Regions from separate parts of the Homo sapiens genome. Here region 1 is linked to region 2. Evidence: fine-mapped expression QTL. A gene starts in region 2. The other region holds a variant in brackets. All regions are shown on one strand. Distances are between the middles of the regions. Region 1 overlaps TRAM2 (translocation associated membrane protein 2). Region 2 holds the start of TRAM2 (translocation associated membrane protein 2).

Region 1 (5,371 bases), 75 kb before region 2:
GGAGGTGTCTGGCAGAGCCTTCACAAATGGCTTGGCACTTTGGGGCAGGAGAGAATGCATAAAACTGAAGAAAACAGCCAAAGTGGCCAAAATTAGAACAAGCTAGCCCAACACGCTCATAGGATGAAGTGGAATTATTTCAGCTCTGGCAACACAGTCTGTGTCAACCTGCCACAGACTTGGCTCTGCTGTGAAATAAACGTGCCAGGGAGGGTGGCAGGGGGAGGGGGGTGACAAAGTACCCTACAACTACCCTCTAACCACCCCCCCCAAACATCCCTGAAGCCCAGGCTGGCAAGATGCCAGCCCCACTCATGGTCTCAGGGTTTTTTTTTGTTTTTTTTTTTTTTTTTACATAAAATAAACCCTTAGCACACCCGTCCACTGGGAAGCAGAGCCTAAGCTGACCCCGGCCACTGGGCTGGTGGGACCACATCCAAGGCATGAAGTACTGGCAGCACGGGGAGCTTGCAAGAGACAGGGACATGAAGTTGTGGCGTCTCTGGCACGCAAGTGTCCTGGGACAGAGCAATGGAAACCTACAGGCATGAGAATGAGGGTTGCTTGATGGCAAGATTTCAGCTGCTCTGCTCACACTACCTCTCCAGCAACTGGCACAACGCAGGCACCTGGCACATCCCAGCATGCCATACATATCTGTTGAAGCCACAACTCAACAGTTTAACCTGGACTCACCTGAGAGAGGCCTCCTGCATGTGAAGCCCTGCCAATGACACAGCCTGGAGAGCACCTAGGATGGGTGTTCTCTAATGGGGGAGGAAGGTGGGCTTAGGAGGCTGCTGGCTGAACATGCGATTTGCAGTTATTAGGCAAGGTGGGGGGCCTGAACTCAATTATAGACTCTGTCAGGGCTGTTTGACTAAAGTGGCTAAGGGATCCCATATCAGGTCTGCTGTGTTGAAACCAAACTGCCCTTTTACCAACGTTTCTGCTGTGCAGCCCAGAGAAGTGTCAGGGAAGGAGAGGGAGAAATGGGGGAAATACATATTTTCAAAAACACTGTCTCACTTCCTAAGGGTAATCAAAAGCAACCACGGGTAGCTCTTCCCATTTCTGCAACCTTATCGTAGAGAGGGATGAAGGCCTCCAATGGCGTTAGGAAACAAATCCCTCAGTTACTGGGAAGCTAAAATTTATCTATGATGTAAGTGACTTGGAGAAGGGGAGTTGCCTTGATGAAAAGACCCATTTCCCCCCTTTTGAATCTAAATCCAAGGTTTGGTTTCTACTGTGATGTCAGAAAGATGACCAGTATTCCAAATGACACTACTATTCCTGCACCTACCAAGAACTACTCCCCTTTGCCTCAAAACAGAGTTCGGAGGTTCTTAATTGGGACTTTTGTTTTTTTAGACAGAATTTCGCTCTTGTTGTCCAGGCTGGAGTGCCATGGTACAATCTCCGCTCACTGCAACCTCCGCCTTCTAGGTTCAAGCGATTCTCCTGCCTCAGCCTCCCGAGTAGCTGGGATTACAGGTGCCTGCCACTACACCTAATTTTTTGTATTTTTAGTAGAGATGGGGTTTCACCATGTTGGCCAGGCTGGTCTTGAACTCCTAACCTCAGGTGATCTGCCCACCTCGACCTCCCAAAGTGCTGGGATAACAGGCGTAAGCTACTGCGTCCGGCCGTAATTAGGACCGGCTTTTTAAAGCTGAACGCCCCTTCTAAAAGTCCTCACAAGGCACCAAAAGGACTTGGAGGCCTTCTCTTCAGGTGGAGGGGAGGGGAAAGAATCTGTGAGGGAAGGGGCCAGAAAGGCGCCTATCATCTACCCAGAGAGTGACTCTCAGTCAGTCATGGTTTCATGCAGTCTAAAATGCTGTAGTTGTGCTCAAAAAACGACAATTCCAAAGAACACTCAACAAGGGCGGCCAGATGAACAGCGGTCCAAGTGACCCTCCCTGAACACCAAGGGACCAGCATGGGGCTGAAGCCCTTGAGACTTAGTGTTTCTGCAGCTAGAGATGAAGTCAAGGTAGTAAGTTTGGCCCCTGACGGGGCTGGCTGGCTCTGGAGGTGAGGACCAGCCTATCTCAGGCAGGTATATGAACTGCTGTTTGGTTTGGTTTTGAATGCTTGTGAATGGCTGAAAAAGCAATGGCGACTGGGACTGCTGGAGAAAGGCCTAGGTCGACTCCACTGTGGGTTCTGCCACCATTACCTTTCTGGAGGTGCCTGCTGCGCAGTTTGCTCTGCTCTCGCTCTAAGCAGTGGGAAGACGTGTCCCCCCCCACAGAGCGACAGCAGGCTGGCTTCCAATCCGCGGCCAGCCACTGGTAGGAGCTCGAGTCACGGGACCCAACCGAGTTCACACCATCCTTCTGGATTGAGTTGTCACGTCCCAAAGCCAAATGCCTTGGCATTTACAACGAGCAGTGGCTGCTGTGCCTCAAGATGGTACATGCAGAACTGGAATCATATATCTCGTCAGTTAATCAGCACCAAGGAGATTATGATCCGAGATGGCCGCTCTCTTCTTGCCCATCCACATGAGGACCACCAAGGGCCTACCAGCCCCAGGCTTCTGACCGGCAGGCCCTGGGGGACCGAAGGACAGGACTGCAATCTTAGCTCCCCTCCCATTGTAAAAATCAGACAGAAAAATTGCAAGATAAGGTGAAAATAGGAAGTAAAAAGGAAAAGCAGCAGCCATAAGGCAAGAGACAGAGCAAGCAGAAAGGTGCCAGCCATGGGCGCCTGGCGTTCCAGAAAAGCCAGCACAGGACAGGAGTGAGGACAGGAGGTGGCCTGAGGGGGAGAAAGAGAAAGATTTTTGGCTTTATTGAGAATGGTTTGTGGAAGAATAAGAGGAAGCCAAGAAGAAGGAAAGCGAAACGCCCCCTCCCCCCATTGCAAGACAGGTTTCGGCTGTTTGAGACGGA[G/A]CATCACAGGCAGGAAGGAGGAGGCAGGGAGGGGGCCTGGGCTCCTTGCCCCCTGCTCGGCCCCCACCAAGAGGATTCCTGTTCTTAGCACTTTGGCCTTAGGGAGACTTGAGTTTCTTAGTCCGTGGGGAGGTTCCGTTCTCTGCCTTCACCACTCCATTTTCATGGTAACCTGGGAAGTGGAGAGAGACAAGCATACATGGTGTTTCTGCTGGAGCTAAGGCAGAAGAGGGGAGGGTGGGGCCAGGCCAAGGAAGGGGCCCGGGCAGCCCAGCTGCTATACATGGATGCACCAAAGGGGCGCCAGGCTGCAGCCTTGCACAGCAAATGCAAGCCAGCAGACGGCTCCCAGGAGGGTCCTGTCTTCCCCAGGGCCCTGGACTAGTGGCCCTGTTTGAGAGGCTTGGTCTCTGACTGCACTTTAGCAGGAGGGGCCTGGGATGACACACAGTAACTCAGCAACAACAGAGGCCAGCCTGCCCAAGCCTGAGGCTGGGGCTAGATACTCGCCGAAATCACTTAGATGCTGTCACTGCTCACTGTCCTCAGTTCTTCTCAGGCCCCTGCAAGGCATCAGCCCACTTCCAGTTCAGCAAGAACTCCCAGGAGCAGTGGCCACAGAAGGGAGGGGGACAAGAGGCTGTAGGAACAAGGCCTCAAGCAGGATGCCTGACACTCCTCTGGCAGAAAAATTGTGCTCTATTGTTCAAAATACCTCCGTGCGCTTGCTCAAATTCAGAGGTACTGGCTGCAGTCTTATGCCCCATACCTCCCCCGCCAGCCAGGCCTGACTCTGTGACACACCCAGCTGCGCGCGTGTCTGGTTCAAACACACATAAGCCTTTGCCAAGCAGGTGGCCACCTAGAGAAAAGCAGGTGAGTCAGAAAGCAGCGCCCAGTGCAGACAGGCCCCCAGGCTGGGCAGAACGTGCAGGGCTGGCAGGGCCTGAGGACCTGCTGAAGGTGGGTGATGACTGGAGTGCGTGCACGGGCCAAAGGATAAGTGTCCCACCCCTACCCCCCACCTAGCACTATGTCACTGTGAGTCATTCTTGGAGACAGAGGAGGAGCCAGCAAGCTGGGAGGCAGGGGCAGGCTAAGATGTGGAGCAAAAGGGCAGGTGAGGACAGAGGCCGCCGTCCGGCACTGAGAATGGGCGGCGGCGGCAGTAGCAGCACTTGGCTGGGGTCCAGAAGCCACCCTGAGGACACGCTTCCTGCCAGAGTTCCCCACCCAGCCACTGCCCTGCCCCGTGGTGGCCAGGGCTCCCAGCCTAGTTAGGGCCAGCCCCACCCACAGCCTGTCCCTGGCCCACACCCAGCCACGTGCCAATCAGGGAGCTAGGAGCCCCAGCCCTGAGGTAAGAGTCAGGAAGGAGAAGCTGGCAGGATTGGTCTGGGCAGCGCCCAAGAAGCCAGGTGCCTTGGCTCCTCCCACCCATCCCAGACAGACTTCCCTGGCTCCACTCTCTGCCAAGGGCCCTGGCACTCACCAGATTCCCTCTTGATGAGCCTGGCTGGTAGTCTGGGTGTGGCTGGGACTCTCCGCTTTGCACTCTGCTCATTCCAGTATTCCCGCCAGTGCCGCAGCTGGGAGTGGATGAAGCGCCACATGAGCCAGGCCTGGGCGGCACACACCAGCAGCAGCACGCAGAGCCTGCAGAGCAGGGGGTTAGGGGCTTAGGCTGGGGCTTGGGCTCACAGCCTTGGGCTGGGTTGTGCAGGGGAGAACAAGGGCCAGGGGCCCTGCAGTTCCCATGGCTTATCACGTCCGCCTTCACCACTGGCCCTCTTCGATACCACCACTATCACCAGGAAGAATGTGTGCTTCAGTCAGTCTCTGCTCCAGCATACATCACATGTGCCAGGGAGACGGGAAGGAAGTGGCGACAGACGTACGGCCAGCTCTACAATCACGCTACTCCTATGACGAGGGAGGGGTCCATGGCTGTGTCTGTTTTGCGCCCATTGCACAGAACAAGACTAATGTAAGCTCCACAAATATTGGTAGCATTCAAATGAACTGAATTTCTGGAAGAGTGGCTTCTCATTTAACATGTCACTTAAAAGTGGAGCAACCCTGGACAAATCACTCTCCTGGGCCTAGGGGCTCCGGAAAATAGTGGCTTCCTCACTGCCACAGGAGGCCACTGGCCAAGCCATTAAGCACATGGTTTTAAAGCACCCACACACAAGAAGAGGAGAATGATATCAACTGAGAGACTGGGTGTGATGCCTCTGTGCACCACAAAGTGCCAGACAAATGTAAGGGATTCCTATTTGGACTACAGTCTGAGCAAACCAGGACTAGGGGATGAAGATGGTTTGGATGGAACCAGAGGCTGCTATCTCTTCTCCCCTCAGGCCTGATATCCAGAGATTTCCAAAAAATAACAATATGTGGGAGACTAAAGGGTCTGCTGCCTCCAGACCTTCTGCAAGGGCTGTGCCAAGTTCAGGAGGCTC
Region 2 (5,371 bases):
ACGGAGAGAGCCACAGGCTATGCGAGAAACTTCGTCGCTGCAGCCTGTGGCTTTGAGGTTTACAGCTGTCACGTGTATCTTTCCAGCCACACCCTCCAAGGCTGGGGACACGCACTTGGAGGCCTCTTAGAATGGAGGACAGCAAACAGACAGCAGAGAATGCGCTGGGCAAAGGAAATTCTGTTATTTTGTTAAGCTATTATTATGATAAATAATCACAGGGCTCCAGGCGCAAGAGACTTTTTCATGTTGGTAGGAGATGTTATGGCTTTTGTTGCTGATATGATCTCAGTTAAACCTTACAACCACCCTGTGACGAAGACCAGTTTTATGAACGTCTTTAATGATGGGGAAACTGAGGCTGCAGTCAGTTTTCAGTCAGACTAGTCACAGAACAGGGACTGAGACACACGGATATGACTCTGTGTGACACCACACACTTCCAGGGGAGAACCCAGAACAAGGTGGAGCAAGCCCGACCCAATATACCACTAGAGAGAGCTGTGAGAGGGAGAGGAAGGAGAGAGGGACTGAACTAAAGGAGCACTATCAAAAAGTGGAGTGGAGACCCCAGTCCTAGCACCACCGTTTATTTCCTACAGACCCTAAAGCTCAGCCACGGACACATTCATTCATCCAACCCTGACTTGGCCACCACAAGAACGTTCCCAGCTTGAGGGCAGCTTCGCCAGCCAATTAGGGCCCTTGTCATTCGTAGAGATACAGGGAACCCGAGACAGAGGGACAGGGAAGGAAATTTAGCCAGGCAAGCCATCCTCCATCTCCAAGGAAGTTTGTAAATGATCACAGCTTCCTAACCCAACCGTGAGAATGCAATAAGCAAGCTGACGCAGAAGGGAGGACAAGGAGTCTCAGGAACCAGAGGAGACCACGGTGAGAGTGAGGGGAATGTCGCTCACATATCTCACTTCTGAGACAAGATATACCGCAACAAACCCATGCCAAGCTTCCTCCAGTTCTTCCCACTTTTGAATATCACATTTTTCTTGCTCTGCAAGAGTAGGGAATCCTTCCCATCAGTCTTGTGAATTCTGACCCCTTGCTGGCTTTCTACAACTCCCTGCCTGGGAGGCCGACACCAGGACATTGCTGTTGGGGGTGGGATCCCCATCCTCTGCCCCCCACTCCTACACTATAAGAGAATCAACTTTCCCCAAAAAGTGGAGGGTATCCCTGTCTCTCTTCTTGTCTCTGTAAAGGGGGTGAAGCTCTGGGTCGCCGCAGATGGATCTAAAGGGACAGTTCACGGAGTGGTAAAGGATATCCAAAAATTGGCCTTCTAGAGCACAGCAAAAAAGTGGGAGCGAGACGAGAGCAGAAGGCCACTGCTGGGATGGGGCCAGGGCCACACGTGAACATCCGAGCACGTTCCAGAGCTGAGATGCAAAACACCCAGAAAATCACATAGGAAGTGGAAAAGGTTCTGGGTCTCTCCCACTGGAAAAGCCCAGAAGAGCTAGTGGCCACCCCTTGGGGCAAGAGGGGGTTGTGCAATGACTGCGGGTCTGGGAGTCTCTGGGCTTGGCTCCTGGACGCCAGAAAGGGAACCCCACGCGTCAAGCCATGGTGGCAGCGCGGCGGTTGGTTCGAGGCCAGGCTGGGGTTTCAGGGCTGCAGACAGAGCTGCAGGATACGATGAGTGCCCAAGGGGGCGGCAGAGCATGGCATGGCTGGCACGGCGCGGAGCTGGGGGTGCTGTCTGGGCTGGCCGGGGTACAGGCCGGAGGGGTACAGTGCACAAAGCCGGGGTGCAGATAACGTACACGGCAGCCAGGAGCCTCCGATCAGAGGAGGGCCCGCTGACCTGCAGGGGTGTGCCGGGCGGTGCACGACAGGGGGCACTGTCCCTCCAGCTCCCTCCTCCCCAGGCTCTCACCTCGAACATAAGCCCGATGAGGACGCAGAGCACCAGGCAGAAGCCGATGTCCGCATGGTTGTGGATGACGAACTCCTGGCTGAAGAGCGGGTAACTTTTCGTCCTCCTGCGGAAAGCCATGGCAGCGGGCGCGCAGCGGCCGGCGGGGCCCGCACCCTGCGCTCACGAACCGCAGCGCAAACTTCTCCAGCACCGGCCCGGTCCGCCCGCCGGCCCGCCGCCCGCTCTCCCACAGCCGCTCGCCCGCCCAGCGCGGAACAACTTCGGGGCCCGCCCCCTTCCTCCGCCCGCCCCCGGCCGCCCGTAACCGCCCCCGGCCGCAGCCCCCGCCCAGCCCCCGCCCAGCCCGCGGCCCGCACTCGGCGCGCCTGGCCCCGCCCCCCGCGGGCTTAACCCTCTAGCCGCTGGGCACGCGCGGGCTACCGGGGCGGAGGCGTACGGGGGCGGCGAGCGGGGCTCGGCTCCTCCTCGTCCCGCGCCAGCGCCGCGCCCGGCCGCATTCTCGGGGCCCGAGGCTCAGCCGCTCGCGGTGGAGAAAGCAGGCCGCGGAGGAGGCGGGCGCCCAGGCCTGCCCGGACAGGAAGTGGGCCCAGCTTTCCCACTCCTCGCTCCGCTCCTTCCTCCGCGGGAAGGGCAGGCCCCGGAGGCAGCGAGCGCCCCGGGGGTGGCCGGGCAGCCGGATGCTCCCGGGGTTGCGGGCTGTGGCCCCGGGGGCTGAGGGCGGCGCGGGTGCGGCGGAAGCAGGGAAGCCGCGAACCGGCCTTCTGGCTGGCCACAGCGCCCTGCACGGACGATCAGTGAATGGAGATTACTCAAGTATTTATCGAGAACTTGCAGTGGGCTAGGCACAGTTCAGGTAGATCAACAAACCGAAAGACCCTGCCCTAGGGGAGCTTTCGCTCCAATGCGGGGAGAGGGTGGATGATTGCAGTTTTGCCCAGTAATTTTTGGGACCCTCATGCCACCATTAATTAGCTACACACATTTCACCGAAAGTCTACCTTACATATTAATCAGAAGAAGTGGAAGAATAAACACAGAAGAAGCAAAAAAGGAAGGAACTTTCTCACTGAAAGTTTCTATTTAATATTAAGTCTTAAAAGTACTCCTGGAAGGACAAAAGGTGTTCTTAATAAATTATATTCGCAAATATTGGATTTAATCCTACCAGTAATGAAGCAGTCAGTTACTTTCTAGATGTGCAGAAATACGTAATGAACAAAAAAAACTAATTCCTATTCCATTTTTTATTAGGTCCACAGTTATTTCACTTCTAAATAAATATGGTTTTTTAAAAGTGGCACGCGGTGGAATGTAATTGAGACAGGATGGAGTTCCTAGAGAAATTTTACTTCCTCAATCTGCACTCCACCTTACTTAAAATACAGTCTTGGGTCTGTAATTCCCTTATCTGACTCTCAAGGAAATGACAAAGTAATGCCTAGATTGGACTAAACCTCATTTAACTTCAAGGCTGACCTTTCTCAAAGTTGAACCTTCGTCTTGTGAGGAACAGAAAGATCAAGAACTCTGAAGCACCTCGACTTTCCACCTGTGAAGATGTGTTCAAATTTGCAACGTGCGGCCACACCTATGAGGTTGAACTTTATACAATTGGTTTCTTTATAGGTTTAGATGGTTGAATTTAAGTTACCCCCACTGCTATTATTATTATTTTGAGACAGAGTCTTAACTCTGTTGCCCAGGCAGGAGTGCAGTGGCGAGATCTGGACTCACTGCAACCTCTGCCTCCTGGCTTCAAGCAATTCTCATGCTTCAGCCTGTAGCTGGAACTACAGGTATGTGCCACCACACCTGGCTAATTTTCGTATTTTTTAGTAGAGGTGGGGGTTTCACCATGTTGACCAGGCTGGTCTCGAACTCCTGACCGCAAGTGATCCGCCATTTTTTGAGACGGATTCTCTGTTGCCCAAGCTGGAGTGCAGTGACGCCATCTCGGCTCACTGGAACCTCCTCCTTCCAGGTTCAAGCAATTCTCCTGCCTCAGCCTCCTGAGTAGCTGAGATTACAGGTGCCCTCCACCCCCTGCTAATTTTTGTATTTTTAGTAGAGACAGGGTTTCACCATGTTGGCCAGGCTAGTGTTGAACTCCTGATCTTCAGTGATCCACCCGTCTTGGCCTCCCAAAGTGCTGAGATTACAGGCCACTGCACCCAGCCTTTTGCTACACATTTATACTAAACTATATTATGGGGCAGCACAGTAGGTTTGTTTACACCAGCATCACCAGAAACACGTGGTTAATGCATTGCGCTACAATGTTACAGTGGCTACGACATCACTATGTGATAGGAAATTTTCAGCTCCATTAAGATCTTATGAAACAACTGTTTTATATGTTGTTTGACCTGAATATCATTACGTGGCATATGGGTATATGTCCTCCAGTTTTTCAACATTCCTTCCTTCAAAAAGAGGCAATTCGTTCCCCCACCTTGAGTGTGGGCTGGACTTAGTGGCTCACTCCTAATAAATAGAAGGTAGCATAAGTGATGGTATGTGACTTCCAAGACTAGGCCAGAAGAGGCATTTGAGGGTTTCTGCTTTCTTTCTCTCAGGTCACTCCCTCTGGAGGAAACCAGCTGCCACTTTGTGAGGATACTCATAGTCCTGTGGAGGCATATCCTCCATATGGCTGAGACCTCCTGCGAACAACCATCACTGACTTGCCAGACATGAGTGTGCCACCTTGGAAGCAGATTTTCCAGCCCCAGTTAAGCCTTCAGATGACATCAGCCCCTGCTAATCTCTTGACTACAACCTCATGAGAGACCCTGAGCCAGAACTAGCCAGGTAAGCCACTCCTGAATTCCTGACCCACTGCACCTGGGAGAGAATAAATATTTGCTGTTTTAAACCACTAAATTTTATTGTAATTTGTTATACAGCAAGAGATAGCTAATACACACTGCTAAAGCTTACAATCTTTTAGAATTGACTGAGACATCATTACAATTCAGTGTGATGATGGTGACTCTAAGAACAACCTGAAATATGCACACTCTGAGTACAAGGAAAAGGTAACCTAATTCTCTCTGGGGTGTAAGGGAGGAGGTCATTTGGGCTGGGCCTTTACCTGACAAATGGTACTGACAGAGAATGCAGAAAAGGAGTGATAGATGAATTTGGAGAGTTAAGATAGAACTGGATTGTGGCAGGTTTTGTATGCTGTGATAAAGAATTGTGACTTTATTCTGCAAACAATGGGAAGGAATGGAAAGTTGGTGTTTTTTGTTTATTTGTTTTTGAGATGGAGTTTCCCTCTTGTTGCCCAGGCTGGAGTGCAATGGCACCATCTCAGCTCACTGCAACCTCCACCTCCCGGGTTCAAGAGATTCTCCTGCCTCAGTCTCCCAAGTAGCTGGGATTACAGGCATGTGCCACCATGCCCAACTAATTTTGTATTTTTAGTAGAGACAGGGTTTCTCCATGTTGGTCAGGCTTGTCTTGAAC

The links.
Region 1: its variant is fine-mapped to the expression of TRAM2 in lung (TOPMed, PIP 0.95).

The regions. Positions count from the first base shown.
Region 1 is chr6:52,500,193-52,505,563 of GRCh38, forward strand. It overlaps TRAM2 (translocation associated membrane protein 2), which reads right to left. Exons shown (of 11, transcript NM_012288.4): 10 at 4,399-4,562; 11 at 1-3,078. The coding sequence ends at 3,005. Among named protein-coding and RNA genes, the nearest start is that of TRAM2, 74 kb to the right of the region's middle. RefSeq lists an enhancer at 3,574-4,773. The variant G/A (reference allele first, on the strand shown) is at 2,907.
Region 2 is chr6:52,574,899-52,580,269 of GRCh38, forward strand. TRAM2 (translocation associated membrane protein 2) reads right to left here and starts at 2,162. Exons shown (of 11, transcript NM_012288.4): 1 at 1,898-2,162. The coding sequence starts at 2,017. It overlaps TRAM2-AS1 (TRAM2 antisense RNA 1), which reads left to right and starts at 2,304. Exons shown (of 3, transcript NR_103446.1): 1 at 2,304-3,495; 2 at 4,477-4,711. RefSeq lists silencers at 1-17, 1,875-2,734.